Linked DNA regions of Homo sapiens: regions 1, 3 and 4 are each linked to region 2. Evidence: fine-mapped expression QTL. A gene starts in region 2. Each other region holds a variant in brackets. All regions are shown on one strand. Distances are from middle to middle. Region 1 overlaps LOC107984257 (a long non-coding RNA gene). Region 2 holds the start of CYP2C8 (cytochrome P450 family 2 subfamily C member 8). Region 3 overlaps LOC107984257 (a long non-coding RNA gene). Region 4 overlaps LOC107984257 (a long non-coding RNA gene).

Evidence for each region. PIP is the estimated chance that this variant, and not a neighbour inherited with it, causes the effect.
Region 1: its variant is fine-mapped to the expression of CYP2C8 in testis (GTEx, PIP above 0.99).
Region 3: its variant is fine-mapped to the expression of CYP2C8 in whole blood (TOPMed, PIP above 0.99).
Region 4: its variant is fine-mapped to the expression of CYP2C8 in testis (GTEx, PIP above 0.99).

What each region holds. Positions count from the first base shown.
Region 1 is chr10:95,164,563-95,172,960 of GRCh38, forward strand. LOC107984257 (a long non-coding RNA gene) reads right to left here. Exons shown (of 10, transcript XR_007062253.1): 4 at 5,719-8,398; 5 at 4,468-4,564; 6 at 3,819-3,906. Among named protein-coding and RNA genes, the nearest start is that of ACSM6, 25 kb to the right of the region's middle. The variant C/T (reference allele first, on the strand shown) is at 4,369.
Region 2 is chr10:95,065,519-95,073,896 of GRCh38, forward strand. It overlaps CYP2C8 (cytochrome P450 family 2 subfamily C member 8), which reads right to left and starts at 3,979. Exons shown (of 9, transcript NM_000770.3): 1 at 3,717-3,979; 2 at 2,011-2,173; 3 at 1,690-1,839. The coding sequence starts at 3,884. RefSeq lists a promoter at 3,884-6,851 and a cis regulatory region at 5,794-5,814.
Region 3 is chr10:95,125,664-95,134,061 of GRCh38, forward strand. LOC107984257 (a long non-coding RNA gene) reads right to left here. Exons shown (of 10, transcript XR_007062253.1): 7 at 1-8,398. Among named protein-coding and RNA genes, the nearest start is that of CYP2C8, 60 kb to the left of the region's middle. The variant T/C (reference allele first, on the strand shown) is at 4,584.
Region 4 is chr10:95,116,283-95,124,680 of GRCh38, forward strand. LOC107984257 (a long non-coding RNA gene) reads right to left here. Exons shown (of 10, transcript XR_007062253.1): 7 at 7,937-8,398; 8 at 1,236-1,326. Among named protein-coding and RNA genes, the nearest start is that of CYP2C8, 51 kb to the left of the region's middle. The variant G/T (reference allele first, on the strand shown) is at 5,161.

The sequences.
Region 1 (8,398 bases), 99 kb after region 2:
AAATTGACAAATGGGATCTAATTAAATTAAAGAGTTTCTGCACAGCAAAAGAAACTACCATCAGAGTGAACAGGCAACCTAAAGAATAGGAGAAAAATTTTGCAATCTACTCATCTGACAAAGGGCTAATATTCAGAACCTACAAAGAACCTAAACAAATTTACAAGAAAAAAACAACCCCATCAAAAAGTGGGCATATGAACAGACACTTCTCAAAAGAAGACGTTTATGCAGCCAAAAGACACATGAAAAAATGCTCATCATCACTGGCCATCAGAGAAATGCAAATCAAAACCACAGTGAGATACCATCTCACACCAGTTAGAATGGCAATCATTAAAAAGTCAGGAAACAACAGGTGCTGGAGAGGATGTGGAGAAATAGGAACACTTTTACACTGTTGGTGGGACTGTAAACTAGTTCAACCATTGTGGAAGTCAGTGTGGTGATTCCTCAAGGATCTAGAACTAGAAATACCATTTGACCCAGCCATCCCATTACTGGGTATATACCCAAAGTATTATAAATCATGCTGCTATAAAGACACATGCACATGTATGTTTATTGCAGTACTATTCACAATAGCAAAGAATTGGAACCAACCCAAGCCCATCAGTGATAGAATGGATTAAGAAAATGTGGCACATATACAACATGGAATACTATGCAGCCATAAAAAATGATGAGTTCGTGTCCTTTATAGGGACATGGATGAAGCTGGAAACCAGCATTCTGAGCAAACTATCTCAAGGACAGAAAACCAAACACCGTGTGTTCTCACTCATAGGTGGGAATTGAACAATGAGAACGCTTGGACACAGGATGGGGTACATCACACACCAGAGCCTGTCATGGGGTGGGGGGAGGGATAGCATTAGAAGATATACCTAATGTAAATGACGAGTTAATGGGTGCAGCACACCAACATGGCACATGTATACATATGTAACAAACCAGCACGTTGTGCACATGTACCCTAGAACTTATGGTATAATAATAAAAAATAAAAAAAATAAATACACAAATAAATAAAATAAATAAATAAGTGGGTAAATCTCTGTTCGAGGCTCTCAGCTCTGAAGGCTGTGAGACTCCTGATTTCCCACTCCACACCTCAAAAAAAAAAAAAAAACAGAACCAATGACAAAAACCACATGGTTATCTCAACAGATGCAGAAAAGGCCTTCAATAAAATTCAACACCACTTCATGCTAAAAACTCTCAATAAGCTGGGTATTGATGGAACATATCTCAAAATAATATGAGTTATTTATGACAAACCCACAGCCAATATCATACAGAATGGGTAAAAACTGGAAGCATTCCCTTTGAAAATCAGCACAAGACAAGGATGTCCTCTCTCATCACTCCTATTCAACATAGTATTGGAAGTTCTCTCCAGGGCAATCGGCCAAGAGAAAGCAATACAGGATATTGAAATAAGAAGAGAGGAAGTCAAATTGTCCCTGTTTGCAGATGACATGACTGTGTATTTAGAAAATCCCATCGTTACAGCCCAAAACCTCCTTAAGCTGATAAACAGCTTCAGCAAAGTCTCAGGAAACAAAATCAATGTGCAAAAATCACAAGCATTCCTATACACCAAACAGAGAGCCAAATCATGAGTCAACTCCCATTCACAATTGCTACTAAGAGAACAAAATACTTAGGAATACAACTTACAAGGGATGTGAAGGACCTCTTCAAGAAGATCTACAAACCACTGCTCAAGGAAATAAGAGAGGACACAAACAAACGGAAAAACATTCCATGTTCATGGATAGAATCAATATCGTGAAAATGGCCATACTGTCCAATGTAATTTATAGATTCAATGCCATCCCCATCAAGCTACCACTGCCTTTCTTCACAGAACTGGAAAAAACTACTTTAAACTTCATATGGAACCAAAAAACGGCCCGCATATCCAACACAATCATGGGCAAGAAGAACAAAGCTGGAGGCATCATTCTACCTGACTTCAAACTATACTACAAGGCTACAGTAACCAAAACAGCATGGTACCAAAACAGATATATACACCAATGGAACAGAACAGAGGCCTCAGAAATAACACCACACAGCTACAACCATCTGATCTTTGACAAACCTGACACACACAAGCAATGGGGAAGGGATGCCCTATTTAATAAATGGTGTTGGGAAAACTGGCTAGCCATATGCACAAAACTGAAACTGGACCCCTTCCTTACACCTTTTACAAAAATCAACTCAAGATGGATCAAAGACTTAAACGTAAGACCTAGGACCATAAAAATCCTAGAAGAAAACCTGGGCAATACCATTCAGGACATAGGCATGGGAAAAGACTTCATGTCTAAAACACCAAAAGCAATGGCAACAAAAGCCAAAATTGACAAATGGAATCTAATTAAACTAAAGAGCTTTTGCTATGCAAAAGCAAATATCACCAGAGTGAACGGGCAACCTACAGAATGGGAGAAAAATTTTGCAATCTACTCATCTGACAAAGGGCTAATATTCAGAATCTACAAAGAACCTAAACAAATTTACAAGAAAAAAACAACCCCATCAAAAAGTTGGCAAAGGATATGAACAGACATTTCTCAAAAGAAGACATTTATGCAGCCAAAAGACACATGAAAAAATGCTCATCATCACTGGCCATCAGAGAAATGCAATTCAAAACCACAATGAGATACCATCTCAAACCAGTTAGAATGGTGATCATTAAATAATCAGGAAACAACAGGTGCTGGAGAGGATGTGGAGAAATAGGAACACTTTTACACTGTTGGTGGGAATGTAAATTAGTTCAACCATTGTGGAAGACAGTGCAGCGATTCCTCAAGGATCTAGAACCAGAAATACCATTTGACCCAGCAACCCCATTACTGGGCATATACCCAAAGGATTATAAATCATTCTATGATAAAGACACATGCACACGTATGTTTATTGCAGCACTATTCACAATAGCAAAGACTTGGAACCAACCCAAATGCCCATCAATGATAGACTGAAGAAAATGTGGCACATATAGACCATGGAATACTATGCAGTCATAAAAAAGGATGAGTTCATGTCCTTTGCAGGGACATGGATGAAGCTGGAAACCATCATTCTCAGCAAACTATCACAAGATCAGAAAACCAAACACTGCATGTTCTCACTCGTAAGTGGGGGTTGAACAATGAGAACACATTGACACAAGGAGGGGAACATCACACCCCAGGGCCTGTTGGGGGGTGGGGAGCTAGGGGAGGGATAACGTTAGGAAAAATACCTAATGTAGGTGACAGGTTGATGGGTGCAGCAAACCACCATGGCAGGTGTATACCTATGTAACAAAACTGCACATTCTGCGCAGGTAACCCAGAACTTACAGTGTAATAATAAAAATAAAATTGATATCACCAGCAAAAAAAAAAGTTCCTAGAAATTCATCAAACCATGTGGCACAAAACTCAAATGACATTTCACTTTGTTTTGATTTGTTTTGTTTGAGACAAGGTGTCACTCTGTCACCCAGGCTGAAGTGCGGTGGGGTGATCTGGGCTCACTGCAGGCTCTAACTCCTGGGCCCAAGTGATTCTCTCAACTCAGTCTCTCCAGTATCTGAGGCTACAGGCAGGCGCCACTAGGCCCAACTAATTTTTTTATGAAATTTTTTGCAAAGATGTCCAGGCTGGTCTTGAACTCCTGGACTCAAATGATCTGCCTACCTCAGCCCTCCAAAGTGCTGGGATTACAGGCTTGAACTGTGTAATTTCACGTGGCATGACACAGCACAATGATGAAAAGGAAGAAACCCTGTGGGTCCAGCGTATACTCACATGGGTGGATTGATGGCTGGGAAACCCAAGCAGGAGGAGCCAAAACAGCAGCCACTGGACCCGCATGTCCTGGTTTTCTCAGGGCCCCCTGAGGAGGCCAGGACAGAGGTGAGGGTGGTTTAGGGCTAAGGGAGGAAAGGGGATGGGGACTGGGGGTGGGACTGCAGTTGGGGAGGGGGAGGGGAGGGAAAGGGATTGGGAGGGGAGGGAAGGCAAGGGGGACTGTGGGGGGCCTGGAGGAGCAGGGCGGTGGGGGGCTGGAGAAGAAGGAGGAGGAAGAAAAAGAAGGAACCCTGGGAAAGGATCCAGTTAAAACTAAGTCTTCAAGTGCTGGTGGAAGGTTCAGCTATAGGTCAGTGAAAAAGTCTATCAGCAAAACAGCAGGAGGAGTGGGGCAGGGGAGCAGGAGGCTCAGGAGCAGTTGGAGGGAGACCAGGGCTCTGGTTTCTACCAAACCTTCTCCTGTCTGGGCGCTACCTTAGCAACCCTGGGGCTTTATACTTCCTCTCCACCAATCCTCGGTCCTGGTACCATAGTGCCTCACAGTGGG[C/T]ATTCCATGTGATGTCCACATTCTTCCAACACCCCCTCCCCCACCTGAACCCCTGATGCGCCATCCCAAAGACAGGTCCTCTCTGGAAACTTCGCAGACCTTCTGACTTCTCATCCTCCCCAACCAGCTCCCTGTCCCTGCTTCTGGGCTGATCTTTCCTTCCTGAGCTCCAAGTGTTCCTCATGGTCAGTCTTGGCTGCAAAACATGAAAAACAAATGATGGCAGGATGGCAGGAAGAACCTCATACACAAGCAGAGTGGGAGGCTCCACAGCCCCCTCTCAGCAATTCATATACTAAGCAACAAAACATCAGTAGGATGTAGAAGGTCCAAATAGTAAACCATCTCCATCACATTCATGTAGTCATCTATCCATCACCCTTGTATCTTGGGAATAAATGTTGGCGATATATTCATTTTAAGCACATATGGTACATTTACAAAAATTAACCTGACTTATTTTGTTCATCAAGCAAATCTCAATATATTTCAGAGGAATCAAATCACGTTTCTGATCATATAATTGTGCTAGAAGTCAACGATAAAAAGCTAACCAAAAATTCTTATATGCTTGGAAATTCAATGTGCCCTTATAAGTAAGATATAAACATAAGGAAGAACCCAAAATGAAACAAGACTGCCTTTGCACTCAATGATAGAATCATAATATGGCAATAAAACATCTCCCTCTGGCCTGGGAATTCCACTTTGTGGCACAAGGTTGTGTGGTCCCAAATCATTTCTAACCCACCTAGACATTTTAACATCTGAAATGGGGTGATGATGTCACTTATCTATGTCATCTTACTGCCTGTGACCATGGGCTTTAAATTTTGAACCCTAATGAGGGGAGGAAAACCAAGTTGACTCTCATGATTGACTTCCCAGGTATGACCAAGGAATCTGTGCATTTCAAGTGACGAAGTTCATCAGCTTCTCTCCTGGGAGATTTGGCCACAATACCCAGAGGGCCAGGCAGCACCAGGAGTAATGGGTGGGGAGTACCAAGCAATTGGGCAGGACCTAGGGGCCCGGTGACCAGGACAGACCCCCACTGGCCATCACCTTTCCTGGTCCTGTCTTCAGCTAAACCTCCCAAAGGCCTTCTTCTGCCTGATTGCACAGAGTGTGCCCAAACTCACCCAGGCTTCTAGCAGCTTAAAACCACTTCTTTAAATCCCTTTACCATTTATTATGACATAAAGTTATTATAAACAGGAAATATTCCATTGAGGCTACAAATAGAAAGCCAATGCCTTTACCATAAATGGAAAGAAATCCTAAGAAACAAGCATGACAAAAACAAAACACAGATAACAAAACAATGAAATTATATTTGTATACTGTCACCTGCATAAAGACCCCCAGTTTCAGTTGTCTTGCTTGTAAAAGGAGAGACCAAGAGGGGGTTGAAGTCAGATCTGCACAAAAGTGAACGGCACAGATTACCATAATGTCCGTGAAGGGTTGCTGGGGTCACCTTGATTATAGCCCAAGTAGACATAAGGAAAGGAGGGCAATATGAGCAGAGTTTGGGGCCTCAAACAGGGTAGGTTATTTATGCAGCCCAGGAAAGGCTCCCCAAAGCCAGTGTCAACCTCACAGGCAGGTCCCTCATGGAGGCAAGGCCAAGCACCTTGGATTTGAGACCAGCTGTGCTGCTGACCAGCTGTGTGACCCTGGGCTGGTTTCCTTCCATACAATGGGAGTGCCAATGGCTACATGCAAAGACTGTCTGAGGACAGGAGGAAGAAATCTGTTGAGCACCTGTGTACCTGAGTGTCAGCACCTCCCAAGGGCATCTGTCCTTCCAGAGCTGGCACCCTGGAAAGTTCTCAGATGCTAAAGGCAGTCATGATGATAACAGCAGTAAATCATCATTTACTGCTGATGAGGGAGGGCCAGTGGGCAGGACTCCTAGGTTCTGGATAGGAATGAAAGTCTGGGCACGCCTGGGGACAGCTGAGTGAGTCCTGTATCAGCAGTACAGGCAGGCACAGAGGCAGTAGATTCATCAGAGGTGGCAGGTGTGGGATGGTCTGATAAGCAAGCATAGTCACCAAGCTGGCTGACCACTGCCCCCTCACAGAAGATGCCCTGTCCCTTGCCTCACATTCCAGCAGGGCAGAGGCTGGCACCTGGGGCCTCACAGAGCATCCCTCTGAGACTTCTGTGTCCTGGCCAAAAAATGGGCACTTGCGTCACCCAGCACTGACAGAACAAGGAGGAAGAATCAGGACCCAGGATGTTTTGGGGAAGTGTTTAGCACAGAAAAATGCTCAGAATACAAACACGACACAGGGGAACTGTTCATGTGGGAGCCAATATTTTATAACCTACAGCCCTAATCTGAGCACTCTCACCTGTGCAATCTGAAAGAAACAGGGGACTTGCAGGAAGGATAGTGCCTGGATTTAACTTGAAGTAAAATGTTGGAATTTTCACACTCCTGATATCCTTCCAAATCAACTCTTTCAATGCTCCCATCCTCACCACTATCATGTGGGGTAACTGAGGCAGTCAGGGATTTACTGACTCAATGTCATTCAGTCATTTCTGAGTTCACTGCTGACTACATCTGACCAAACTTGAAGTTCCCGTTTAATCTTGCCAGTGACGGTTTTTGGCAGCTCTGGGACAAACTCCACCTGGCTGAAGATAAAGCAAATCTGTGGTGACTTAGTCCTGCTGTCATTTCCTACCAATCCCCTACTCTCCTCCTCTGCCCCTCCACAGTCTCCCACACAGGCTAACACCATATGGTGGCCTTAATGGTGTCCACTGAGTATTTCAGCTTCTCCACGTGGGCCGTTTAAGTTGGGTGTAGCCATGTGATTTGCTTTGACCCAAAAGTGAGTGGAAGCGAAGCATGTCACCTTGAGGCAGAAGAGTTGGGAGCCATTGAGACTGGACACCCTCTTCTCTATCTCCGAGAGCACCTGACAGGTTCCACATGGAGGCTGCTCCTTTACCCTGGCAGCAGGATAAGAAGATGTGGTGCACAGGGCCCAGGAGAGCCATGATGGACGTGCAGCATGAGCAGGAAAACAACCTCCATTGTTTAAGACTGTTTGTGACCCACAGTGGTATCTAGCCCATCCTAGTATGCATGCACCATCTATTCCACACTCTGTTAAGCAGACTAGCCTACCATCAGAACATGAACTGCTCGTCAGACACACATAGGTTTCAGTTACAGCTCTTCCTCTTATTGACTGCAACCTCAGGCATTTAACTTTCAATCTCTGAGCCTGTTTCACCTCTGTAACATGAGTTGGCTATACTATCTCACATTGTGGAGAGGATTAAATAAAATAAAAATGCACACAGAGCACTGAGCCCAGGGCCTGGCACACACAGTGAGTACTCAATCAACGTTAACCATGTAACTTCATAATGTGTATTGACTGTCAATATTTAGACAATGCCGCAAAGTACTACAAAAAAGGAAATGTTAACTATTTTTCAAATGTATTCTTCCAAACTTTATTTTCAAACAGATAGGATGAAACTATGTAAATTCTTTCATAGCCAGTGTTTTTCTCTTAATAGTATATTGCTAAAATATTTTTATCTCAAAAATAAGATTGTGTTTAAGATTATCATTTTAAATTACAAGTAATGCTCAATTTAATGAATAATTTAATTATTACTATTGAACTTTTTGTAGATTGCACACAGCATTTAAAACAAATGAAAGAGAATTAAAAATAAGAATGTATTACATGTTATAAAATAACTATGTTTTGTTAATTCTATTATTCATATAAGCACATATATATGCAATATGGAAGGTATTTTTATTGTAATGTTTAAAAATAGTTTAGAAGCTGCTTATTTGGATTTCCCTTTTTGAATTTTGCAGGATTATAACTTTTTAAGTACTGTTGGGCACTTGTCTGGTTGTTTTTCTTTAGCTTAACATGCCAGCAATGATTCCTTTTGGGTTTCTGACACAAGACAGTGGTTTTCATCCACCCCATCCCTAAGCCACTCAGATGGAATGAAAAAGGAGGAAAAGGCCAGTACT
Region 2 (8,378 bases):
AGATTTGTTTATCTAAATAAGTAAAATGCTAACTTTTTATTTCAAATCTAAATCCCAGTAAAGCTAACCAAAAAGTAAATTGATAAATGGAATCTTTTTATTTATTTTTTCAATTTGTAAAAAATGAATTTCCTTCCTTTGGAAATAATGTTTATCATTTCCAATCATCTTCCAAATTTAATTCATTTGGGCAAAACTACTCTTGTGGATTCTGGGATATTATTCAGTATAGTCATCAAGATAAGTATGTTTTAATAAAGTTTTAAATTTGACCATAAGTTAGGCCAAATCTGTAATTTTACAGGTAAAGAAATTATTAAAAAGGCTTTTATTCGGTGAAGGAATCTCTAAAATGAAATTGCTGTAACCAAGTGACTAGTGAACATAAATGGAAAGGGTGCCCAAATTCACATCTATAGGTCCTAAATAAGAGTGACACGAAATGAAAGGGTTGTGAATAAAGTTGGAACATTGAACAACAAGAAACCTGCTGAGTTAGCTGCTTCTATGCCAGACTCCTTTAAACATTACAGGGCTCTAAAGTTTCAGAAAAACTGTTGTTTTAGCCAAGGGGGTGAAAGGTAATTTGGGAAGCCTTGGTGAGAGAGAGAGAGAGAGAGAGAGAGAGAGAGAGAGTGTGTGTGTGTGTGTGTGTGTGTGTGTGTGTGTGTTTCTCAGGTACAATCTGATATCCAGGTTTTTTTTTTTTTACTGCATTTGGGAGAGTGAATTTAAAAAGGTAATTTTATATCCCAGCTGATAATCAGATTGATTATAACAAGCACTTCATAGGTGAGTAAATTGGCAGTGGGAGAAAAATGATTAGCACAAATTTCAAAGCTAAGAACCAATACAGGGGAAAAAAGATGACAAAACTGAAAACATAGCCAAATTACATTTAAAGAAGACAGGATAAAGAGTTTTTCATAATAGTTAAAATCTAGTTAAACAAATTATTTACAAATTAGTGTTTGTGTATTTGCTGAGTTATACTATAGATTATATTTACTTAAAATATATTAATTGCTACAGTAAGTAGTGGTTAACAAGAAATAATTAATCCTGACAGTTTTCAAATAGTACTGTGTTTCCCGAGAAATAAGAACTGATGAAAACTGTACTGAGATATACCTAAGCAAGTAAAACCATACATAGTGTCATTGCTGGCCAGAGCTGTAGGCATGGACCTGGAAGGAATTTCCAGACATGTGAGTATGACCATATGAAAAAACTCGAATTAAATGAAAGCACATATAACTTGGTTCATATTTCATGAAGTGTGATGAGGTCACTTTCACCATGTCCACTTTCCAAGTGTTCTCTGGTGAAATGTTCTGGTGGAGGTAATGCAGATTTATGCTATGGGGGAAACCTTCTTTAACTCTTCAAAAATGAACTCAAGACCCTTATTTATAATTTCTGATTTGAAAACAAGGAAACAAAATTGAGCAGAAAATAGGATTAAATGACCTTTTATTCCTACACCCTATGAACCAACACATTTATACAGGCAAAGCACAGATACACAAAACCTCCCTTGTCTCTGTGCTTCAAATCTCCCTCCACCACCTGAGGGCTGACAACCAGGATGCGCAATGAAGACCTGGCCACCCCTGAAATGTTTCCAAGGACGTCACTAGTGAAGACAGGTAACTGTTAAGGTCAATGACGCAGAGTAGAGTCACCCACCCTTGGTTTTTCTCAACTCCTCCACAAGGCAGTGAGCTTCCTCTTGAACACGGTCCTCAATGCTCCTCTTCCCCATCCCAAAATTCCGCAAGGTTGTGAGGGAGAAACGCCGGATCTCCTTCCATCTCTTTCCATTGCTGGAAATGATTCCTAATAAAAAAAGGGGCAGAAACTGGGAGAATTCACAGCCAAGGAAGAAAGTGCTGCAACACTTGGCAGCCATGCAGATAGGCTAAGCTCTGCTGAGAAGCTTTTTAGGGCTCTGTTTTCCATCCCCCTCACCCCAGTTACCAAAGCTGACACAGAAATATGTGCACCTACCAAGTCCTTTAGTAATTCTTTGAGATATTGGGGAATTGCCTCTTCCAGAAAACTCCTCTCCATTATCAATCAGGGCTTCCTTCACTGCCTCATATCCATGAAACACCACTATGGGATTCATGCCAAAATACACGGTGAACACAGGACCATAGACTTTTGAGAACTGGGAAAGGAAATGCAAATAGCAGCAAAATAAGTCGCTATTTGCTCCAAATACTATGTATGATTCAGACTGACATTTTCATTGTATTTTTTAATGTTCATATTTGCCACACATAGATTCGATATTTCTGAATTTTGTACATAAATGTGATGGTGATTGTTATAGCTGCCACTTATAGATGGCCTGTGATGTGCCACGCAATGACCCAGGCAATTGGTACACAAATCACACAGTTCATCCTCACTTCAACACATTCAGCACATTCATTTGACCTGTTTTAAAAATGAAGAAACTGAGGCCAGAGAATTGCAGATTCATTCTCAGAGTCCCACAGGTAATATGTAGAAGCTCCAAACTGGAATCTCTGCTAATTTAAACTGATGCTTGAGCAATTAATCAATCCCCCATGTCCACCTTGAGGCCACTACCCAGCTAAAGACTTCAGGGTCACTTGTAAAGCTCTTAACATGAGGATTCTGATACAGCAGTCCTGTGATGAACCCTAGAAATCTGTATTTACAGTGTCACCCCAGGTGATTCTAATGCCCAGTCCAGTTTGTAACTGCTGGTATTACCAATATGGAACGATGAAGCACCACAAAGTTAGAATCAGGACATTCAGCATCTCCTGGAAGAACAATTTCTTCCATTCTCCAGCAACCTTGGCCACAGACAGTGGCTTTCTTCAGAATCCAAAAGAATTCTGTTAACTACCTATTGGGCCCTGACTGATTACTTCTTTCTTTCATGCACTTATGTTTGCCCTGAACCCACAGATATTTATTTCACATCAGCCATCAAATGAATCTTCAGAGAAGTTCAATTTTCATGACCATTCTGAATAAAACACATGACTACTATAGTAGAGAACTTATTGGATGAAATTTCTAATCACACACACTTCCCTTCACCTTCAGTCAAAAATCATAGCAAAACACTGTGAAACAAAGAGGAGAAACAGCACTTTAAACTTTTGCCACTGTATTAAATGATTATATAATACAATGACCCCAATGTTTCTGTATTCACAAAATGCATCAACTCACTCCGCTATTTCTGACAATGACAGACTTAGAAAGACAAAAGAGGCCAGGTACGGTGGCTCACACATGTAATCCCAGCACTTTGGGAGGCCAAGGCAGGCAGATCATGAGGTCAGGAGACTGAGACCATTCTGGCTAACACGGTGAAACCCTGTCTCTACTAAAACATACAAAAAATTAGCCGGGCATGGTGGAGGGCACCTGTAGTCCCAGTTACTCGGGGGAGGCTGAGGCAGGAGAATGGTGTGAACCTGGGAGGCAGAGCTTGCAGTGAGTGGAGATAGTGCCACTGCACTCCAGCCTGGGCAATAGAGCGAGACTCCGTCTCAAAAAAAAAAAAAATAGGAAGACAAAAGAAACATCAAAGAAGTTCAGAGGGAGTATTTTGCTTTACAATGATCTATTATAATAGTGTGCTTCCAGGAATATATTTTGTCTAAAAATAGCAGTCAAATAACTTACCCTTTGCAATTGGCTGGAGGAACATAAGGCAGACTTACATTGGTGAAAGATTTGCAGATGTCCTTAACATCTATCTGTAGCATATTTCCAATAATAGGAAGAGGAGTGGGGCCAGGAGGGAGCTTCCTTCTCCTACAGCTCTGTCTCCAGAGTGAAAAGAGAAGCATAAAAGAGAGACACAGCACCAGGACCACAAAAGGTTCCATTGAAGCCTTCTCTTCTTATTAAGACAGCTGTGAGCTTGCACTCCAAAGTTTTTATAACACTCCCTGCTAATTTAGTGTGTGTCTCTTTGACATGTAAAGTAAACAATCACCTAGATCCAATTTATACTTTTTTTCTGAGTGGACTTTGGCCCATGGATAGAAATAAAATGTTCTTTTGTCCTACTCCTTCTTTCCAGTGCCAATCTAGGAGATTCTGGTTTAATTGTATTGGATTGGAGCCCAGGTATTTTTAATTAAAAGTCCCTGGTTGTTCCAATGTGCTGTGATGATGGAGAAACACTGAAGTAAATGATTCTATGTTAGAATATACTCAAAATTCAATATTCTCAGATTAATGACCAGTTGGGAATTTATGACCTTGAGGGAAATCAGTGTATTCTATATTTTGTGTATAAAAAATGTACATTGTAATGCTATATCAAAAAATAGGAGACTTAGCCCTTGATAACAAAAGCCTTTCAAATATTTAGTATAGTTCACTTAAAATACAGCTGCCTAAACATGAAATAGTGAATATAACTCATACATGTTGAATTACCATACATATATCAAATTATTAGCTAATAAATGTATATTTATATATATTTAAATGTATATAAACAATATACATAAATATATATGTTATTACATAATAATATTTGTGTTATTATTACATTATTATAATAATAGGTGATTATTTACTTTACATGTCAAAGAGACAAACTGAATTAGCAGGGAGTGTTACATACATTATTACATAATAATAACATAAATACATATTTATACTATTAAATATTATATTAAATATATAAAAGTATATATATAAATGTATATTCATCATTAAAAGAGACTGGAGTATAAAGATTATCATTTTTTATTTTTCAAATTGGGAAAGAAACTCTGGGAGAACAGGACACCTGTCAGTGCCACACAGCTCATTGCCGGTAAAACCGGGATTTGAGCAGAGATCTTCTGATACCCATTGGGGTTCATTACCACTTACACCACAGCTGGCTCAAGAACAATTTTAGAAAAACAAAACAAACCCCAGACATTAGTTACTCTGAAGATACGCCACCTTGACTCTGTTCAGAAAGCAACAGGCTTCACATTAAATAGAAGTCCGTTATTTGTTTATAAGGATAAGAGGACCGGAGACGCTCAAAAGAAGAAATAAAAATTAGAGTTCTCCCCTCTGCATCACCTCACAAGTGAAAGTTGTTCAGCACTATTAAGGAAAGGGCCAATCTCACATAATTTATGGCACAGGGCTTGAAAATCTATGGCTTCTCCACCTTCCAGTCACCTCCAGACATGGCTGCTTCTATTGTTTTTGGTCTGTTATTGTTACAAATAATAGAATGTAATCATACACAGCAAGGAAGAGAAATTATACACAGAACAACAGTTGTGGATTCAACAGAAGATGGAACACAGGGAAATCACTGAATGGACCCAGGGCACAGAACCACTGCAATGTGCAGACCTGAAATGGGAACTGATAGTCAATGGTCATGAAGATCTAAATACAACTGGATTTATGAACATTACTAGATCACTAATAACAAAGTGTGTATACAAAGGCATGCTCTGAAAAGATTACCTTTATTCTAAATTGACCAGTACAGTTATTTCCAGCTCTTTCATTAAGAAAATATTAAGACCCAGTTATACAATGTTTTATCGATTATGTTTATAGACATTATGACAAATTTACAGAGAATTTTCACACTCATCACATCTCTTTTTATTCTCTCAATTATCTTTGCCCACTGTAAAATTATTCCCAGTTTAGAGAGGAGAAAGTTAGACCATGGAGATTCAGTACTTTAGCTAAGGACACACAGAATGCAAGTGACCAAGCTGGGGCTGGAAACCATAACCCCTGCATCTTGCTGCCTTCCTTTTAAGCAAAACATCCAGTTAAACCGGGCCACCAAGATTGACTAAAATTCAATACTTGTGGATTAATCTAATCAGTGACTTTCAAAATAAACATTAATTTAGTTAATAATTCTAGCACCAGTTGAGTAAAATGTGGGTCAGACGTGTTTGGTTTTATAACCTTTAAAAGGTGAGTGAGTCCAGGTCCTGGTGAACCCTTTATCCAGGGCAAAGGGAAGTAGTAATTTGCTGCCTCACTCACGTAGGTATAAGCTAGTTTATTTGGATAAAATAAGTTCACTTTCTCTCTTTAGAGCAATAATTTTATTCCTTGAGAAACAGTTGCCCTTGCTCTGCTCCTTGTTTCTTCTCCTGAGCTGAGGCTCCTGCCTTGACCTTTCTTTTTATAGAATAAAAGGAACATAGATAATTTAAAGACAGACGGGATCTCTGAGATCTACTAATTTAATTTTGCTTTGTTTTTCAGGAATGAGCAATTGGTGACTCAGTGAGTTAGAGCATTATCAATGCACCAGTAAAAGATTTTGTATTAGAATCCCAGTTTTCCTGCTTGGTGGTTCAGTGAAATACCCTATCCTATAGAATTCCCACCTAAGTCCAAATGATCAAGAGTGTATTAGCATTAATTAAGCCCTCTACAGTCACAGATTGACACCCACCTCAGCTTGGATAGGGTTGTGAATTAGAGCGGGGTTTTTTTTTAATTAATAGAATTTATTTTTATAGCAATTTTAGGCTCCGAGCAACAGTTCCCACAAACCCCTTCACCACACCTACAAATAGTCTTTCCCACAATCAACAACCCCCATCAGTGGGGTTCATTAGTTACAGTCAGTGAGCCAACAATAAGACATAATCATCAACCAAAGTTCGAAGTTCACATAGGGTTTACTGTTTGTGTTGTACATTCTATAAATTTGACTGATGTATAATGCCATATATCCACCATCGTAGCATCATACAGAATAGATTTGCTGTCCTAAAAACCCCCCATGCTCTGCGTATTCTCTCCCTTCCATGCAAGTCCTTGGTAACAAGTGAACCACAGTTCACTTTAGTGTTGCCATGGTTTTGCCTTTACTATAAGAGATTGTTATATAGTTGGAATCACACAGTATGTAGCCTTTTCAGGCAGGTTTCCATCACTTATTAATATGCAGAAGGTTTCTCCATGTCGTCTCATGGCTTGAAAGCTCATTTCTTCTTACCACCAAATAGTAATATAATAATATTCCCTTGCATTGATGTACCACAGTTTATCTGTTCATCTAGTGAAGGATATCTTGGTTGCTTCCAATTTTGGCAATAATGAATAAAGATGCTATAAATGTCCTTGTGCAAGTTTTGTGTGGACATATGTTTTCAACTCATTTGGCAAATATCAAGGAGCACAACTGCTGGATCATATGGTAAGCATATTTTAGTTTTGTAAAAGCCACCAAACTCTCTTCCAGAGTGTCTGTGACATTTTGCATTCATATCAGCAATAACTAATAGTTCCCATTGCTTCAAATCCTTGCCAACATTTGGTTTTATCAGTGCCTTAGATGTTCATTATTATAAAGGTATGTGTCATTGTTGTCTTCGTTTGCAGGCCCCTAATTATGTGTAATGTTGAACAGTTTTCATGCTTATTTGACATCTGTTTATCTTCATGGGTGGGGTGTCTGTTCAAATCTTTTGCCCATGTTTCTATTGAGGGTGTCCACTTTTTTGTTGCTGAGCTTTAAGAGTTCTTTGGGTATTTTGGATGACAGTGTTTTATTCTTATAAAGATATATTCTTGTATCTTTTGGAACTATTATTCCTCTTTTAGCTGGACTTCTCCCTCCCTTGATAGTGTCTTTTACAGAGTAAAACTTTTTTTTTGTTTTAACAAAGTTCGGATTATTGATTTGTTCTTTCATGGATTGTGCACTTGTTGTTGTATTTGAAAAACCATTGCCAAGGTCTTCTATATTTTCTCCTATGTTATCTTCTCAGAGTTTTATAGTTTTGTGTTTCACATTTAGTTCTATAAACAATTTGGAGTTAACTTTTGTGAAAAGTGTAAGATTTACATCTAGATTCTTATTTTTGCTAAAACATTTTAAGACAAATGGGACTTAATTAAACTAAAAAGCTTCTGCACAGCAAAGAAATAATTAACAGAGTAAACAGACAACCTACAAAATAGAGTAAAATATTTGCAAACTGTGCATTCAAAAAAGAGCTAATATCCAGAATTTATAAGGAACTCAAACAAGTCAATAAGACAAAACAAATAACCCCATTAAAAACTGGGCAAAGTTCCAATTGTCACAGGATATTGTTGCATTTGTTTTAGAGGTCTTAGTTATGAATTATTTGCCTAGGCCAATGTCAGAATTTTTCCTAGGTTTTCTTCTATGATTTTTATGGTTTTAGGTCTCATATTTGTCTTTAATCCATCTTAAGTTAATTTTGATATGTAGTAAGAATTAGGGGCCCAATTTCATTCTTCTGTTTATGGCGAGCTAATTTTCCCAGCACCATTTATTGAATAGGGTGTCCTTTCCACAGTGTATATCTTTGTTAACTTTGCCAAAGATCTGTTGGCCATAGGTATGT
Region 3 (8,398 bases), 60 kb after region 2:
CTTCCTTCCAAATGGCAGCATGAGCATGATGGATAACTAAGAAAGCATACTTGATGTGAGTGTAAATGTTAGCTACCTTTCCCTTACTTAATTCAAGTGCTCTTATAAGGGCTTTCAGTTCAACTAGTTGAGTGCTTAGGCCTGAAGCAAGAGATGCACTTTCAATTGCATAATTCAGAGTGATTATTGCATATCCCACCTTATGGACTCCTTGCTCCACAAAGGAGTTTCCATCCATAAAGAGGGTCCGGTCTGGATTTTCTAGGAAAGTTTCTCTGAGATCCTCCCTGGCTGCATAGGTCTGTACCACAACCTGTTTAAGTCATGCTCAGGTTTCCCTGTTTCCTCAGGGAGAAAAGTGGCTGGGTTTAGGCAAGAGCAAGTTTTTACCTGGATGGTGGAACCCTCTAACAAGACAGCTTGATATTTAAGGAGCTGGCTATCTGTTAGCTAAATGTTCCCTGGAGGAGAGTAATCCTGCCACATTATGTGGGGTGTAAACAGTTAAATCCTTTCCCAGGATTAATTTGGAGGCTTCTGGGACCAGTAGGGCCACCATGGCAATATCTCAGAGGCATGCTGGCTATCCTTTAGCCACCAAATTAAATTTCTCACTCAGATAAATCTCTGGCTGTTGAGCTGTCCTCAGGCATGCATTAAAACTCCCAGGGCCATTCCCTTCCTTTCTGATACATACAGATTGAAGGCCCTATGAAAAGACTGAGGGTTGGTGCCTTAAGCAAGCCTTGTTGTAACTGGTTAAAGGCCTTTTGAGCTTCAGGTTCCCAGATTAAGAGAGGAGTTTTAGCCACTTGAGTTTCTTTATGAGGTGATATAGAGGATAAGCTATCTCACCATACCCAGGTATCCATAGCCTGCAAAATCCTGTAATGCCCAAAAATCTTCTTAGTTGCTTTAGGGTTTTGAGGAGGGAAAAGGAAAAAATGGGCTTAATCCTTTCTTCCCCTAATGCTCTGGTCCCTTCAGACAGAACTACATCCAAGTACTTCACTGAGATTTTGCAAAGCTGGGCCTTATATTTTGAAACCTTATATCTTCTGTTAGTTAATAAATTAAGAACTTCAGTGCTTTCCTGGGAAGCTTCCTCAGGTGGGGCACAGAGTGGTATATCATCCACATATTGCAAGACCCTGACCTGAGGATGGAAAACCTCAGAGAGGTCTTTTGATAGAGCCTGTCCAAACAAAAGAGGATTGTCTCAAAATCCCTAAGCAGCGCTATCCATGTTAACTGGGCAATTTGGCCAGAGGGATCTTCAAAGACAAGCAGGTATTGAGAGTCAGGATGTGATGGTATACAGAAAAGGCATCCTTTAAACCTAGGACTGCAAATCATTTAGTTCCCTGAGGTATTTGGGTCAGCACAGTATTAGGGAATAGGTATTACTGGATAAATTGGGACTACCACCTCATTAATGAGGCAGAGGTCCTGAAGTAGTCTCCATTCCCCATTGGGATTTTGCCTTCCTAATATTGGGGTGTTGCAGGGGCTGTTACAGTGTTTGAAAAGGTCCTGCATCTTCAGGTTTTTAATAATGGCTTCTAGCCCTTTCCTAGCCTCTGGCTTTAGGGGGTATTGTCTTTGGTTGGGAAAATAAGTGGGATCATTAAGATGGATCTGGACTGGCCTAGTGGTTACTGCTCAACCTACTCTTCCTTGTTGCTCACACTTCTGGATTGATATTAGCTTCTACCAGGGGGAGACAAAGAGTTTGTCCCCCATGTGAACCAAAATGTCTCTACCTAATAAAGGAGTGGGACTTTCAGGTGTGATTGAAAAGGCATGTGTAACTAATAGGTTCCCCCCAACTGCAACTAAGGGGTTAAGAAAAATAACAGATTAGAGTTTTTTCTGAGGTGCCCCTCACAGTTATGGGAAGATGGGAGGCCTGGATTAGAAAGAAGAAGAGAGAGGCTTGCTGTAGTGTCCAGAAGGAGGTCTACCTTTCTTCCTTCAATTTCCAGAATCACCTGGGGCTCCTGTGCTGTAGTGGCATTTGAGCTCCTGGAGCCAGAGGTTTGAGCCCCAGGACATATCAGCCCAGTTGGATCACCTGTGAGATTGGTTCTGAACCCAGTGACCTTTATCTCCAGGGACAATCCAATTTCCAGTGATCCCCATCACATTCTGGACAGGGTCATGGTGGTTTCTTCTTGCTGCCTGGGCACTCCTTAAAGTGCCCTGACTTGCTGCACTGATAGCAACTAATGGATGCACCTCAGGGATTCTGGACTTTGCAAGTTTGCAAAGCAGTTACTAGAGCCTCTGTTCTTCTCTTTTACTTCCTCTCTTTCTCCTGGACCTCCTTCTGGTCCCTATAATAAAAGACAATGGTGGCCACCCTCAGGAGGTTCTTCAAGGTGCTATCTGGTCCTATAACCTGCCTCTGTAGTTTCCTTCTAATATCAGGATCTTCCTGTGTAATAAACTTGTCCTTCAGGATGAGCTGTCCCTCAACTGAATTGGGGAATAAGGAGGTGTGTTTTATTAGTGCCTGTCTGTCTTTCCATAAAGGCTGTGGGATTCTCATCTGGCTTTTGGTCTATCATAGACAGTTTGGAGTAATTAAGATCTTTGGCCCTAATTCTTTCTAGGCCCTCCAATATGCACATTAGAAACTGTTTTCTTTTTCATTCATCTGTGGTGTCACTGAAGTTCCAATTAAGGTTGTCAAGAGGTATTGCCCCTCTTCTTATTGGGAATGGCTTTTCCCCTATTTCTTCACCTTCCCTATTTATTTTCTCTTTTCCTTTTTGGCCTACTATAGAAGACATACTGCTCATCTCGTAATTTCTCTGTTGCCTGCAGAGCTTCCTGCTTTTCACTGTGGTTAGGGTTTGGATTAGGAGCAGCATAACATCCCTCCACAAGAGGTCAAACACCTGAGTTAGGTTTTGGAAAGCTTCTATATACCTAACAGTGTCATAAAAAATCTGCCTAAGTCTCCCTTTATTTGCCTAAGGTCCTGCAATAAGAAGGGAGCTTGAACCCTTGTGGCATCACCTCTGTTGGGCATTACCTGTAGGCATAAGTGTGAAGGTGCAGAAATGGGGAGTTTTTAAGGTGGTGGGGGTAGAGCACCTGGTGGTGCAGTGGGAGGTTGCCCCAGGTAAGGGGGATTGGAAGGGCTGTAACACTCAATAGATGATTTCTCCATGATATGGTTTGGCTGTGTCCCCACCCAAATCTCATCCTGAATTCCCAGGTGTTATGAGAGGGACCTGGTGAAAGGTAATTGAATCATAGGGTCAGGTGTTTCCTGTGCTGTTCTTGTGATAGTGAATAAGTCTCACGAGATCTGATGGTTTTAAAAATGGGAGTTTCTCTGCACAAGCCTTTTTGGCCTGTTGCTCCTCCTAGCCTTCTTCCATGATTGTGAGGCCTCCCCCACCACGTGGAACTGTAATTCCATTAAAATCTCTTTTTCTTCCCAGTCTCAAGTATGTCTTTATCAGCAGTGTGAAAATGGACTAATTCAGTAAATTAGTACCAGTAGAGTGGGGCACTACAGAAAAGATACCCCAAAATGTGAAAGCAACTTTGAAACTGGGTAACAGGCAGAGGTTAGAACAGTTTGGAGGACTCAGAAGAAGACAGGAAAATGTGGGAAAGTTTGAAACCTTCCAGAGACTTGTTGAATGGCTTTAACAAAAATGCTGATAGTGATATGAACAATAAGGCCCAGGCTGAGGTAGTCTCAGATGGAGATAAACTTCTTGGGAACTGGAACAAAGGTGACTCTTGTTATGTTTTAGCAAAGAGACTGGCAGCTTTTTGCCTCTACCCTAGATATTCATGAAACTTTGAACCTGAGAGAGAGAATTTAAGTTATCTGGCAAAAGAAATTTCTAAGCAGCAAAGCATTCAAGAGGTGACTTGGGTGCTGTTAAAGGCATTAAGTTTTAAAAGGGAAATAGAGCATAAAAGTTCAGAAAATTTGTAGCCTGACAATGCAATAGAAAAGAAAATCCTATTTTCTGAGGAGAAATCCAATCCAGCAGCATAAATTTACATAAGTAATGAGAAGTCAAAAGTTAATCCCCAAAACAATGGGGAAAATGTCTCTAGAGCATTTCAGAGGCCTTCACAGCAGCCCTTCTTGACACAAGTCCAGAGTCCTACAAAGAAAAAGTGGTTTTGTGGGCTGGGCTTGAGGTCCCCATGCTTTATGCAGCTTAGGGACTGGTGCCCTGCATCCTGGCCACTACAGCCATGGCTGAATGGGACCAATAAAGAACTCAAGCTGTGGCTTCAGAGGGTGTAAGCCTCAAGCCTTGTCCACATTATGTTGAGCCTGCCAGTGCACAGAAGTCAAGAACTGGAGTTTGGGAACCTCCACCTAAATTTCAGAAGATGTATGGAAATGCTTGGATGTCCAGGCAGAAGTTTGCTGCAGAGATGGGGCTGTCATGGAGAACCTCTGCTAGGGCAGTGCAGAAGACAAATGTAGGGTTGGAGCCCCCAAACAGTATCCCTACTGGGGCACTGCCTAGTGGAGCTGTGAGAAGAGGGCCACTGTCCTTCAGACCCTAGAGTGGTAGATTCACCAACAGCTTGCACCA[T/C]GCACCTGGAAAATTCATGGTCACTCAACTTCAGCCAATTAAGGCAGCCAGAAAGGAGGCTTTACTCTGCAAAGACACATGGGTGGAGCTGACCAAGATCTTGTGAACCCACTTCTTGCATCAGTGTGACCTGGATGTGAGACATGGAGTCAAAGGAGATCATTTTGAAGCTTTAAGATTTGATTGCCCCACTGGACTTCAGACTTCCCCGCAGCCTGAAGCCCATTTGTTTAGGTCAATGTTTCCCATTTGGAATGGCTGTATTTATGAAATGCCTGTACCCCCATTGTATCTAGGAAGTAACTAACTTGCTTTCAATTTTACAGGCTCATAGGCAGAAGGGACTTGCCTTGTTTTAGATGAGACTTCAGACTTTGGACTATGTACTTTTGAGTTAATGTTAAAATGAGTTAAGACTCTGGGGGACTGTTGGGAAGGCATCATTGGTTTTGAAATGTTAGGACAGGAGATTTGGGAGGGACCAGTGGTGGAATTATATGGTTCGGCTGTGTCCCCACACAAATTTCATCTTGAATTCACATGTATTGTGGGAGGGACCTGCTGGGAGGTAATTGAATCATGGGGGCAGGTTGTTCCTGTGCTGTTCTTGTCATAGTGAATAAGTGTCATGAGATCTGATAGTTTTAAAAAGAGGAATTTCCCTGCACATGTTCTTCTCTTTGCCTGACACCATCCATGTAAGATATGACTTGCTCCTCCTTGCCTTCCACCATGATTGTGAGGTCTCCCAAGCCATGTGAAACTGTGAGTCCAATTAAACCTCTTTCTTTCTTTTGTAAATTGCCTAGTCTTGGGTATATCATCTTTATCAGCAGTGTGAAAAACAGACTAATACACTCTGGAAGTTGCTTTTCTAGTCTTGGGGAATCATTCCCTTTGGGCCTTCCTGATATGATTGCTAGAAGGGCTGGGTGAATTGTGCAATGCTTGCAAAGGTCTGGGTTTTCTCATAGGGCAAAGAAATCTTGTATATAATGGACCTTGGGCCATTTTCCCTCCCATATGGAGAAAAGATCTAATTCTTGGACACAATTTAAATTAAAGCTTCCTTCCACAGTTTAGGCTGTTTCAAGTGGGTAAGAAGGCCACACCTTTGTGGGAAAAAAAAAGCCACTTTTCTTCATATCTCAGGGTAAAAAGAGTCCCAGTGTTTTCAAATGCACTCCAGAGGACTACAGGCCGAAGATGATCTGTTACTCATCTAGAAATGGAAGCATGAAAAAGATGTCCCTTTAGTCTCCTTCCTATTGGTGTGACCTAGGGTGGAGGGGAAGACAGTGGTGGCATGCTCCACCTACTGATTTCCCTCCTTGGCTCCTGAGTACCAGCACCTTATTTAATGTGCTGCCCATGGCTGCATTCTTGCAACCCTGCAGCCATTTAAAAATACAGGACCAGAGGAACTAAGCAATTGAGATTAGTCATGCTTACCCATGTGACTCTAGTCCTCCACTTGTGATTTCCCTTTGACTTCCTAGACTTATGTGGCCTCTGTGGCTCCTAGAAGGATGGATCTTGGGAAAAACTATAATATTTGCATTTGAGCAAGGCTCCTTTAATGGATAGTGCATGCTAGATTGAACTCTATATCCTGCTTATTATGGCCCATGTTAAAGCGTTTACCCTTAGAGAATGGTTCCAATTAACTTCCAAACTTGAAATCCCCTTGCTGATTGCCATTCTAACTGGTGTGAGATGGTATCTCACTGTGGTTTTGGTTTGCATTTCTCTGATGGCCAGTGATGATGAGCATTTTTTCATGTGTCTGTTGGCTGCATAAATGTCTTCTTTTGAGAAGTGTCTGTTCGTATCCTTTGCCCACTTGTTGATGGGGTTGTTTGTTTTTTTTCTTGTAAATTTGTTTGAGTTCTCTGTAGATCCTGGATATTAGCCCTTTGTCAGACAAGAGGGTTGCAAAAATTTTCTCCCATTCTGTAGGTTGCCTGTTCACTCTGATGGTAGTTTCTTTTGCTGTGCAGAAAGGATCTAGAACTAGAAATATCATTTGACCCAGCCATTCCACTACTGGGCGTATACCCAAAGGATTATAAATTATGCTGCTATAAAGGCACATGCACACGTATATTTACAATAGCAAAGACTTGGAACAAACCCAAATGTCCATCAATGATAGACTGGAGTAAGAAAATGTGGCACATAGACACCATGGAATACTATGCAGCCATAAAAAAGGATGAGTTCATGTCCTTTGTAGTGACATGGATGAAGCTGGAAACCATCATTCTCAGCAAACTATCAATCACAAGAACAAAAAACCCAACACCACATGTTCTCAGTCATAGGTGGGAATTGAACAGTGAGAACACTTGGAACAGGAAGGGGAACATCACACACTGGGGCCTGTCATGGGGTGGGGGTAGGGGAGAGGGATAGCATTAGGAAATATACCTAATGTAAATGACGAGTTAATGGGTGCAGCACACCAACATGGCACATGTATACATATGTAACAAACCTGCACGTTGTGCACATGTACCCTAGAATTTAAAGTATAATTAATTTAATTAAAAAAGAAAAAGAAAAAAAATCCCCTTACTATTTCAGTACCATTTTAATTGGAGGCAGAATAGGTGCCTTAAAAGAACATAGGGACCAAATGGCAGTTTTCTAGTTGATGGGACAGTATCGAAACTAAACAACTTTGTCTTTGGAGGACATTTTACTCCTAATTGTTGTTGAAGGCAGAGTTTTCCTGTTCACAGAAGCAGCATGAAGCCTGGTCTCTAGCAGAGGGGCACAAAAAGGGAGGAGAATTTGGAGGCTAGAGTGTTTTGGCAGAGGACCAACAATGTGCTTCATGGAGAGAATTCCCATCCCACTAGGTGGCGCTGTTGACCTTGAAATGCCATGTGATCTCTAGACTAAGGGCACAGGGTGACCATGACATGTCATGTGCTCTCCATACCAAGGGCAGAGAGTGAACTTCAAATGCCATGTGCTCTCCAGACAAGGGTAGAGTGTTACCTGGAAATGCCATATGCTCTCCAGACCAAGGGCAGAGAGTGACTTCACTGTGATGAGGGACCCTCTATTCCTAGAAAATTACAACGGCATTCCCTTGAGCTACACCTTCAGTTACTATGGCATTTCCTGATCTTACCTAACAAGATTACTTCCCTGAACTGTAAAATTGCTGTGGCATTGCATACAAAGAGAGAGAGGATGGGAGACATGGTGGTTGCAGACAGGAATGGAGGAAATTATAGTATGAAAGCTGGAGATCCTGTTGCTGACACTCTGTCAGGCAGTCAGAGGATGAGGTCAGTCCAAATCCTTTGAACAACACCAGGGAGTAGCTTCCGCCAGAAATCCTCAGTTGCTTCAGAACTTTTTCCAGCCCCATTCAATTGCTAGGTCCTCTGAAAGAAAACTGGTTCAAACATGGCCAATATGCCCAGCAACGTGTGGGTACTGGGGGATTCTACATGTTTTCCCCAGCAAGCCTCTCCCCCATGTCTTGTAAAGCTGGCAGCCATGCTAATTATTTTTAAATGACTGAAGGGAGCCCAGTATTTGGTATGATTTGATTCTAAAATGGAGGCTGAGAGCCTTGAAATGAAAGGACAGAGTTGAGTTTCACTCCTGTATTCAACATTCCAATGAAAGTACCTTGGGATCCTGGACACACCCCCAGTATGAAGATGCATTGTTGTCTAAGGTAAATACCTGAGGTTCATCGTCTTGCAACAAGAAGTCTAAGGGCATGGACACACACAAGGAGTGAGTTTAGGAGTAGAAGTTTTATTTCCAAAGAAAGAGAAAGGAGAATAGCT
Region 4 (8,398 bases), 51 kb after region 2:
ATAACATTTCCTTCAAAAAATTTTTGAATTTCCTCCTTAATTTGCTCATTGACCCACTGGTCATTCGGGAGCATATTGTCTAATTTACATGTATTTGTATAGTTTTCTAAATTCCTCGTTATTAATTTCTAGTTTTATTCCGTTGTGGTCAGAGAAGATGCTTATTTTTTCAATTTTTTGAACATTTTAAGACTTGTTTTGGTACATAACATGTGGTCTATTCTTAGAGGAGACTTTATTAAACAAACTTATAGCACATAAGGACCACAATATACAAACCTGAATGGGAGATGGAATTCAGTGAGCATAAGGACCTATGTATCATTAGGATGATATACATTGCTAGATAACTAATGCAATGCTTGTGCAAAGGTATGTACTGTAGAGATATTAACATATTTATTTTAATTTTTTATCATATTTATTTTAAATTGGTCAGCATAATTATTCTAAGCTGTTTTATAAGGAAAAATTGAGTTTTTGTCAAGACTCCACTTACACAATGTTTAACCCTCAGGTTTTCAGGGACTCTGATAATTCACAGAGAATGTTCACTCCCATTATATCACTTTTGATTCTCTCAATTATCTTCACCTATGGTAAAATCATCCCCATTTTAAAGATGAGGATATCAAGACTCAGGGACTTATCATCTGCGCCAAGAACATGGTGTCTGCAAGTTGTAGAGCAGAGGCTAGTACCCATAACCTTTGCACCTCAAAAACTTCTCTCTAAGCAAATTATTCAGTTCAACATTCATGAATGTGTACTGTGATACACCATTTCATTATTTCCTCTAATCAGTGACTTTCAAAATAAACATTGAGTTAATCATTGCAGCACCAGTTGATTAAAAAGGGGGTCAAGAAAGTTTGATTTTGTAACCTTTTGAACTTGCATGAACCCAGGTCTTAGTGAACTTTTTATACTAGAACAAAGATAAGCCGCAATTTGATGCCTGATTCACATTGCTCTAAACTCTGAAAGAAACACACTCCTTTATTATGGTTAAAATGAACACTGGCTGTCTTTAGATCATCTGCTTTATTCCCTAAGAGATGCAGGTCTCTACTCTCCTCTTCCTTCCTATCATAAGACTCCCACCTGTATCATTTTATAAAATGAGAGAATTACAGATAATTAAAGATAGAAGGAACCTCAGCAACCCACTCTTCTAATTCCCTACTTTATCGTTAAGAGTAAGGAACTCATGGCTCAGTGAGGTGATGCGTTACCTATGAATGAGAAGAAGACATTTTTTTCAAATCCAGGTTTCCAATTCCCTGTTCAGTGACTTTTCACATCAATAAGATTTTCCATCATTGCCTAAATGAATGGACAAGATGTCATCAGCATGAAGTGCTCCACAAAAAGAATCATAAACCTTGCTTGACAAGAGGTTTTTTTTTGGTTTAAATTTTATTTTAAGTTCCAGGATACATGTGCAGAACGTCCAGGTGTGTTACATCTGGGTAAACATGTGCCATAGTGGTTTACTGCACATATGAACCCATAACCTATGTATTAAGCCCCACATACATTAGTTTTATTCTGATACTCTCCCTCTCCCCACCGCCCCTGACAGGCTTCAGTGTGTGTTTTTCACTTCTCTGCATCCATATGTTCACATTGTTCTGCTCCCACTTATGAGTGAGAACATGTGTGTTTGTTTTTCTGTTCCTGTGTTAGTGTGCTGAGGATAATGGCTTCCAGCTTCATGCATGTCCCTGCAAAGGACATGATCTCTTTGCTTTTTATGGCTGCATAGTATTCCATGATATATATGTACCACATTTTATTTATCCACCCTATCTTTGATGGGCATTTGGGTTGATTCCATATATTTGCTATTGTGAATAGTGCTGCAGTAAACATATGTGTGCATGTGTCTTTATAATAGAATGATTTATATTCCTTTGGGTATGTGCCCAGTAATGGGATTGCTGGGTCAAATGGTACTTGTGGTTCTAGATCCTTGAGGAATTGCCACACTGTCTTCCACAATAGTTGAACTAATTTACCTTCCCATCAACAGTGTAAAAGCATTCCTATTTCTCCACAGCCTCACCAGCATCTTTGTTTCTTGACTTGATATGAGTGGCATGAGGTGGTATCTCATTGTGGTTTTGATTTGTATTTCTCTAATGATCACTGATGTTGAGCTTTTTTTCATATGTTTGTTGGTTGCATAAATGTCTTCTTTTAGGAAATGTCTGTTTATGTCCTTTGCCCACTTTTGCATGGGTTTTTTTTCTTACAAATTTGTTTAAGTTCCTTGTAAATTCTGGATATTAGACCTTTGTCAGATGGGTATATTGCAAAAATTTTCTCCCATACTGTATGTTGCCTTTTGCTGTGCAGAAGCTCTTTACTTTCATTAGATTCTATTTGTCAATTTTTGCTTTTGTTGCAATTGCTTTCGGTCATTGCATTATAAAATGTTTCTCCATGCCTATGTCCTGAATGGTGTTACCTAAATTTTTTTCTAGGGTTTTTATAGTTTTGGGTTTTACATTTAAGTCTTTAATCCATCTTGAGTTAATTTTTGTACAGGGTCTAAAAATGGAATCCAATTTCAATTTTCTGCATATAGCTAGCCAGTTCTCTCAGCACCATTTATTAAATATGGAATACTTTACCCTTTGCTTGCTTTTGTCAGGTTTGTTGAAGATCAGATGGTTGTAGATGTGTGGTCTTATTTCTGAGATCTCTATTCTGTTCCATTGGTCTATATGTCTGTTTTGGTACCAGTGCCATGCTGTTTTGGTTAATATAGCCTTGTAATATAGTTTGAAGTCAGGTAGTGTGATGCCTTCAGCTTTGTTCTTTTTGTTTAGGATTGTCTTGGTTATACAGGCTCTTTTTTGGTTCCATATGAATTTTAAATTCGATTTTTCTAATTTTGTGAAGAATGTCAATAATAGTTTGATGGGAATAGCATTAAATCTATAAATCATTTTGAGCAGTATGGCCATTTTCATGACATTAATTCTTCCGATCCATGAAAATGAAGTGTTTTTCTGTTTCTATGTTTCCTATCTTATTTCCTTGAGCAGTGGTTTGTAGTTCTCCTTGAAGAGGCACTTCACATACCCTTTTAGCTCTATTCCTAGGTATTTTATTCTCTCTGTAGTAATTGTGAATGACAGTTCATTCATGATTTGTTGCTCTGCTTGTCTACTGTTGGTGTATGGGAATGCTTGTGATTTTTGCACGTTGATTTTGTATAATGAGACTTTGCTGAAGTTGCTTATCAGTTTAAGGAGCTTTTGGGCTGAGTCTGAGGATTATGTTGTTCAATTTCCATGTAGTTGTATGGTCTTGAGTACTAATTCGATTGCACTGTGGTCTGAGAAACTGTTAGAATTTCAGTTCTTTTGCATTTGCTGAGGAGTGTTTTACTTCCAATTATATGATCAATTTTAGAGTAAGTGCCATGTGACACTGAGAACAATGTATATTCTGTTGTCTTGGGGTGGAGAGTTCTGTAGACACCTATCAGGCCCACTTGATCCAGAGCTTCCAGAGCTCAGTTCAAGTCCTAAATATCATTAATTTTCTGTCTCAATCTGTCTAATATTGACAGCAGGGTATTAAAGTCTCCCACTTTTATTGTATGGGAATCTAAGCCTCTTTGTGGGTCTCTAAGAACTTGTTTTGTGAATCTGGTTGCTCCTGTATCAGGTGCATATATATTTAGGATAATTATGTTTTCTTGTTGAATTAATCTATTACAATTATGTAATGCCCTTTGTCTTTTTTTCTTCATTGGTTTAAAGTCTGTTTTGTCAGAAACTAGGATTGCAACCCTTGCTCTTTTTTCTGCTTTCCATTTGCTTTGTAAATTTTTCTCCATCATTTTATTTTGAGCCTGTGTGTGTTTTTGCATGTGAGATGGGTCTCTTGAATACAGCACACCAATGAGTCTTGACCCTATCCAATTTGCCAGTCTGTGTCTTTTAATTGGAGCATTTAGCCCATTTACATTTAAAGTTAATATTGTTATGTGTGAATTTGATCCTATCATGATTCTAGCTGGTTATTTTGCACACTAGTTAATGCAGTTTTTTTATAGTGTAATTGGTCTTTGTATTTCAGTGTGTTTTTGTAGTGGCTGGTACCAATTTTTTCTTTCCATGTTTAGTGCTTCCTTCAGGAGCTCTTGCAAGGTAAGCCTGGTGGTGATAAATTCCCTCAGCATTTGCTGTCTGAAGAGGATTTTATTTCTCCTTTGCTTATAAAGCTTAGTTTGACTGGATATGAAATTCTTGGTTGAAAATTCTTTTCTTTAAGAATGTTGCATTTTAGCTGCCACTCTCTTCTGGCTTGTAGGGTTTCTGCTGAGATGCCCACTATTAGTCTGATGGGCTTTCCTTTGTAGGTGACCTGGCCTTTCTCTCTGGCTGCACTTAACATTTTTTCCTTCATTTCAATCTTGGAAAGTCTGATAATTATGTGTCTTGGGGCTGATCTTCTCATGGAGTATCTTACTGTGGTCCCCTGTATTTCCTGAATTTGAATGTTTACCTCTCTTGATAGGTTGGGGAGGTTCTCCTGGATGATATCCTGAAGTGTGTTTTTTAACTTGGTTCCATTCGCCCCGTCTCTTTTAGGTACTCCAATCAGTTGTAGGTTCAGTCTTTTTACATAGTCTCATAGTTCTTGGAGGTTTTGTTCATTCCTTTTCATTCTTTTTTCTCTAATCTTGTCTGTCTGCCTTAATTCAGCAAGATAGTCTTCAAGCTCTGATATTTTTTCTTCCATTTGATCAATTCAGCTATTGATACTTGTTTTTGCATTATGAAGTTCTTGCGCTTTATTTTTCAGCTCCATCAGGTCATTTATCTTTCTCTCTAAACTGGTTATTCTAGTTAACAGCTCCTATAACCTTTTATTATGTTTCTTAGCTTCTTTGCATCGGCTTAGAACATGCTCCTTTACCTCAGTAAAGTTTGTTACCACCCACCTTCTAAAGCCTACTTCTGTCAATTTGTCCATCTCAACCCCTGTCCAGATCTGTGCCTTTGCTGGGGAGGTGTTTCAATCATTTGGAGAAGAGGCACTCTGGCTTTTTGAGTTTTCAGCATTTTTTCATTGATTCTTTCTCATGTTCATGAGTTTGTCCAGTTTTGATCTTTGAGGCTGCTGATCTTTGGATGA[G/T]GTTTTTGTGGGGACTTTTTTGTTGATGCTGTTGTTGTTGCTTTCTGTTTGTTTTTCTTTCGATAGTTAGGTCCCTTTTCTATAAGCCTGCAGCAGTTTGCTGGGGGTCCATTTCCTGCCATATTCATCTGGGTCTCTCCAGCACATGGTGATGTGACACAAGGAGGCTGGAGAACAGCAAAGATGGGTGCCTATTCCTTCCTCTGGTATGTCTGACATCAAGGGGCATCAACCTGATGTCAGTAGACACACTCCAGTATAGGATGTCTGGTGACCCCTGTTGTGGTGTCTCAGCCAGTTGGGGTGAATGGGAACCAGGACCTGCTTAATGAAGCACTTTGATTGTCCCTTTGTGGAGGGGGTGTGCTGTGCTGTGGGAAAACCTATTCATCTGGGCTGGTTCATTCTCATCTCATGCAGATTCTTCAGAGCTAGGAGGGGGAAAGAATAAATATACTGGTCTGTGGAGACCATAGCCACCACTCCCTTTAGAGACTCAGGCCCAGGGATATCAGAGCTATGTCCGTAAGCCCCTGGCTGTAGTTGCTGGAGTTCCTACAGGGAAGCCCTGCCCACTGAGGAGGGATGGGTCAGGGTCCAGCCTAAAAAGGCAGTCTGGATAAGGTTTGCACAGCTGGTGTGCTTCATTGTGAGGAAATACTTTTTGGAACCAAGCCAGTCTCCTCAGCTCCAGCAGGAAAAAAACATGGCCTGAGCTATAGTGATGGTTGCTGCAATCCCCCGCAAGGAGTTCAGTGTCTTAGGCAGCTAGCAGCCACAGTGGTGGCTGCCATGTCTCCCCCAGGGAGTTCAGTTTTCTTAGGCAGGCAGTAGCTGCATTGATGGCTGCCACCCCTCCCCCAGGGAGTTCAAATGGCTTAGACAACAGGGAGCTGCAGTGATGATGGCTGCCCCTCCTTCTGGGAACTTGGTAATCTTAGGCAGATTCCAGCTGAGTTGCTGTTGAGAATCTGTGTAGTTCTATGGTTGAGACCCAAGGCCCTGGTAGTGTGGGATCACAAGTGGGGTCTTCTGAACTGTGGGTTATACAGACCAATGGAAAAAGCACTGTTTCACAGGCTGGGTAGCTTGCTCACTCACCACTTCCCTTCGTTGGGAGTTGGGGTTCTCCTTGCCCCATGTAGCTCTCAGGTGGGGCAACCCACCACCCTGCTTTTCCTGGCTCTCCATGGGTGATGCCAACTGCTTAGTCAATTCTGATGATAGAACCTGGATACCTTGGTTGCTGATGCAAGATTCTCATGCTGTTTTTATTCTTCTGGTTGGGAGCCTCTGACTGCCATTGTTTCTATTTGGACATCTTGGCTCCACCCCCTGTCAAGTTGTTTATTTTTAAATAACCATTTCCATTGAAGAATAAAATACATAGAGATTGTTGCATATGTCCTAAATATATGGCTCAATGAATTATCGCAAAGCAAATATATCTGTTTAGCCAACAAACAGGCCAAGAAAAAAATAATCCCAGGACCACAGAAGCTCCCTTATGCTTCCTGTTAATACTTGTGGTTGCATTATGAAATTTTTGTGTGTATATCTCAGCTCTATCAGATCATGTTGGTTCTTTTTTTTATAGTGGATATTTTGTCCATCAGTTTCTGTATTATTTTATTGTAATCCTTATATTCTTTGGATTGGGTGTTGACTGTATCCTGAATCTCAATGATGTTTATTCCTATCCATATTATAAATTGTATATGTGTCAATTCAGCCATTTCAGCCTGGTTAAGAACCCTTGCTGAGAATTAGTGTGGTTGTTTGGAGAAAAAAAAGATACTCTGGCTTTTTGAATTTCCAGAGTTTTTGGAAACTCTGGTTCTTTCTCATCTGTGTGGGCTGGTATTCCTTTAACTGCAGTGTAAATTGAGCACAGTCAGTAGACTTCTTTTCTGAATGTTTTAACAGGGCCAATGCTTTGTGCAGAGTCTTATTTGCAGCTGAAAATTTGTCCTTGGATTCACAGGGGGTATTTTAGCAAAGTATTTTTGGTGTTGAAGTTTTGGACTGTGACCCCTTGATGGAACTGAAGTGTGATCGTCAGTAGGCAGATTCTTGCTTGGCCACATGGCTTCTCTGTATTTCCTCATGATTGCAGCCATGCTCCCTCTCACTGCTCTAAAAGTGTGGGCTTCTCTCCCAATTGAGAGTTTAATATGAAAGCAACAATTTTTTTTTGAGAAAAACTTATATTCCCTGCTTGACTTGCCATTAAGGAATAATTTTAGGTCTAGGTCATCTTTTATAATTTGTGATATGATTGGGAGAAATACATTATTCTGTGGCTAGAGTAACTTTAGTGTTAACCTTGGCTAAATCTCTCCTGCAATTATTAATTCTTTCAAGACTTCCACATACCATCTAGAAAATGCTTAAACTTTCTCACTTGTCCTAAACATGCCGCTTTTTAAACAATCAGTTATTCTCTTTAGGACAAGAATTTACCTCCCCTAAAATATCCTTTCTTATATAAAATCTCTTTCCTTTATAACCTTCTTTGCATAGCTATGGTGGCCAAACTCAATAAAAAATTCTAGCAGACTCAGTGATAGTAAAAGTTTTGTGCTTCCTTTTTGTTGGTAAATATTATCTCTGCTATAAGGATAATAATTAAGCAAAATACTACAACAATAGAAACTGTCTGATTTTCTAGTTAGAAGGTGCTACAGTATATAGTCACACTGCAAATAGTAGAGCAAGTACAGCAATTCCTGAAAGTGTGGTGTAGTAGATAATTTACATTTAAAATTTTACTCACCAAGACATAACATTTCCCTTTGGGTGTCTATGAAGTTACAAATGCAATTTCATGAATAATTAAAAATCTCCCTGCAAGTATGCATCAAAATATGTTTTAAAACCTGGTAGTGACTCTCAAGAGGAAAAGTAGAAATGACTAAATGTATCTGGTAAGGTAAACATGGGACTAAGTAGGATGAGTAGCCCTTACTCATTTACTTATCTTTTATGATTTTCAGCTTGAAATCTCCTAGTTCTTCACATTAATCTCCAGGACATTCCTCTAGGTTGTCAGGGGTTGCTCTCTTGGTTTTCCAGGCTTTGACTTTAGTATGATGTATCCAGGAGCTGATATCTGTAACTTCTACTGTGGAGGGGATTGAAAGAAGAGCAATTCAGGGCCCTTCCTAGATTAGGCATAGGGAAGTAGAGAGGGAAGGGAGAGCTTTTACCAACACCAAATCTTCTGAGTTAAATAAAG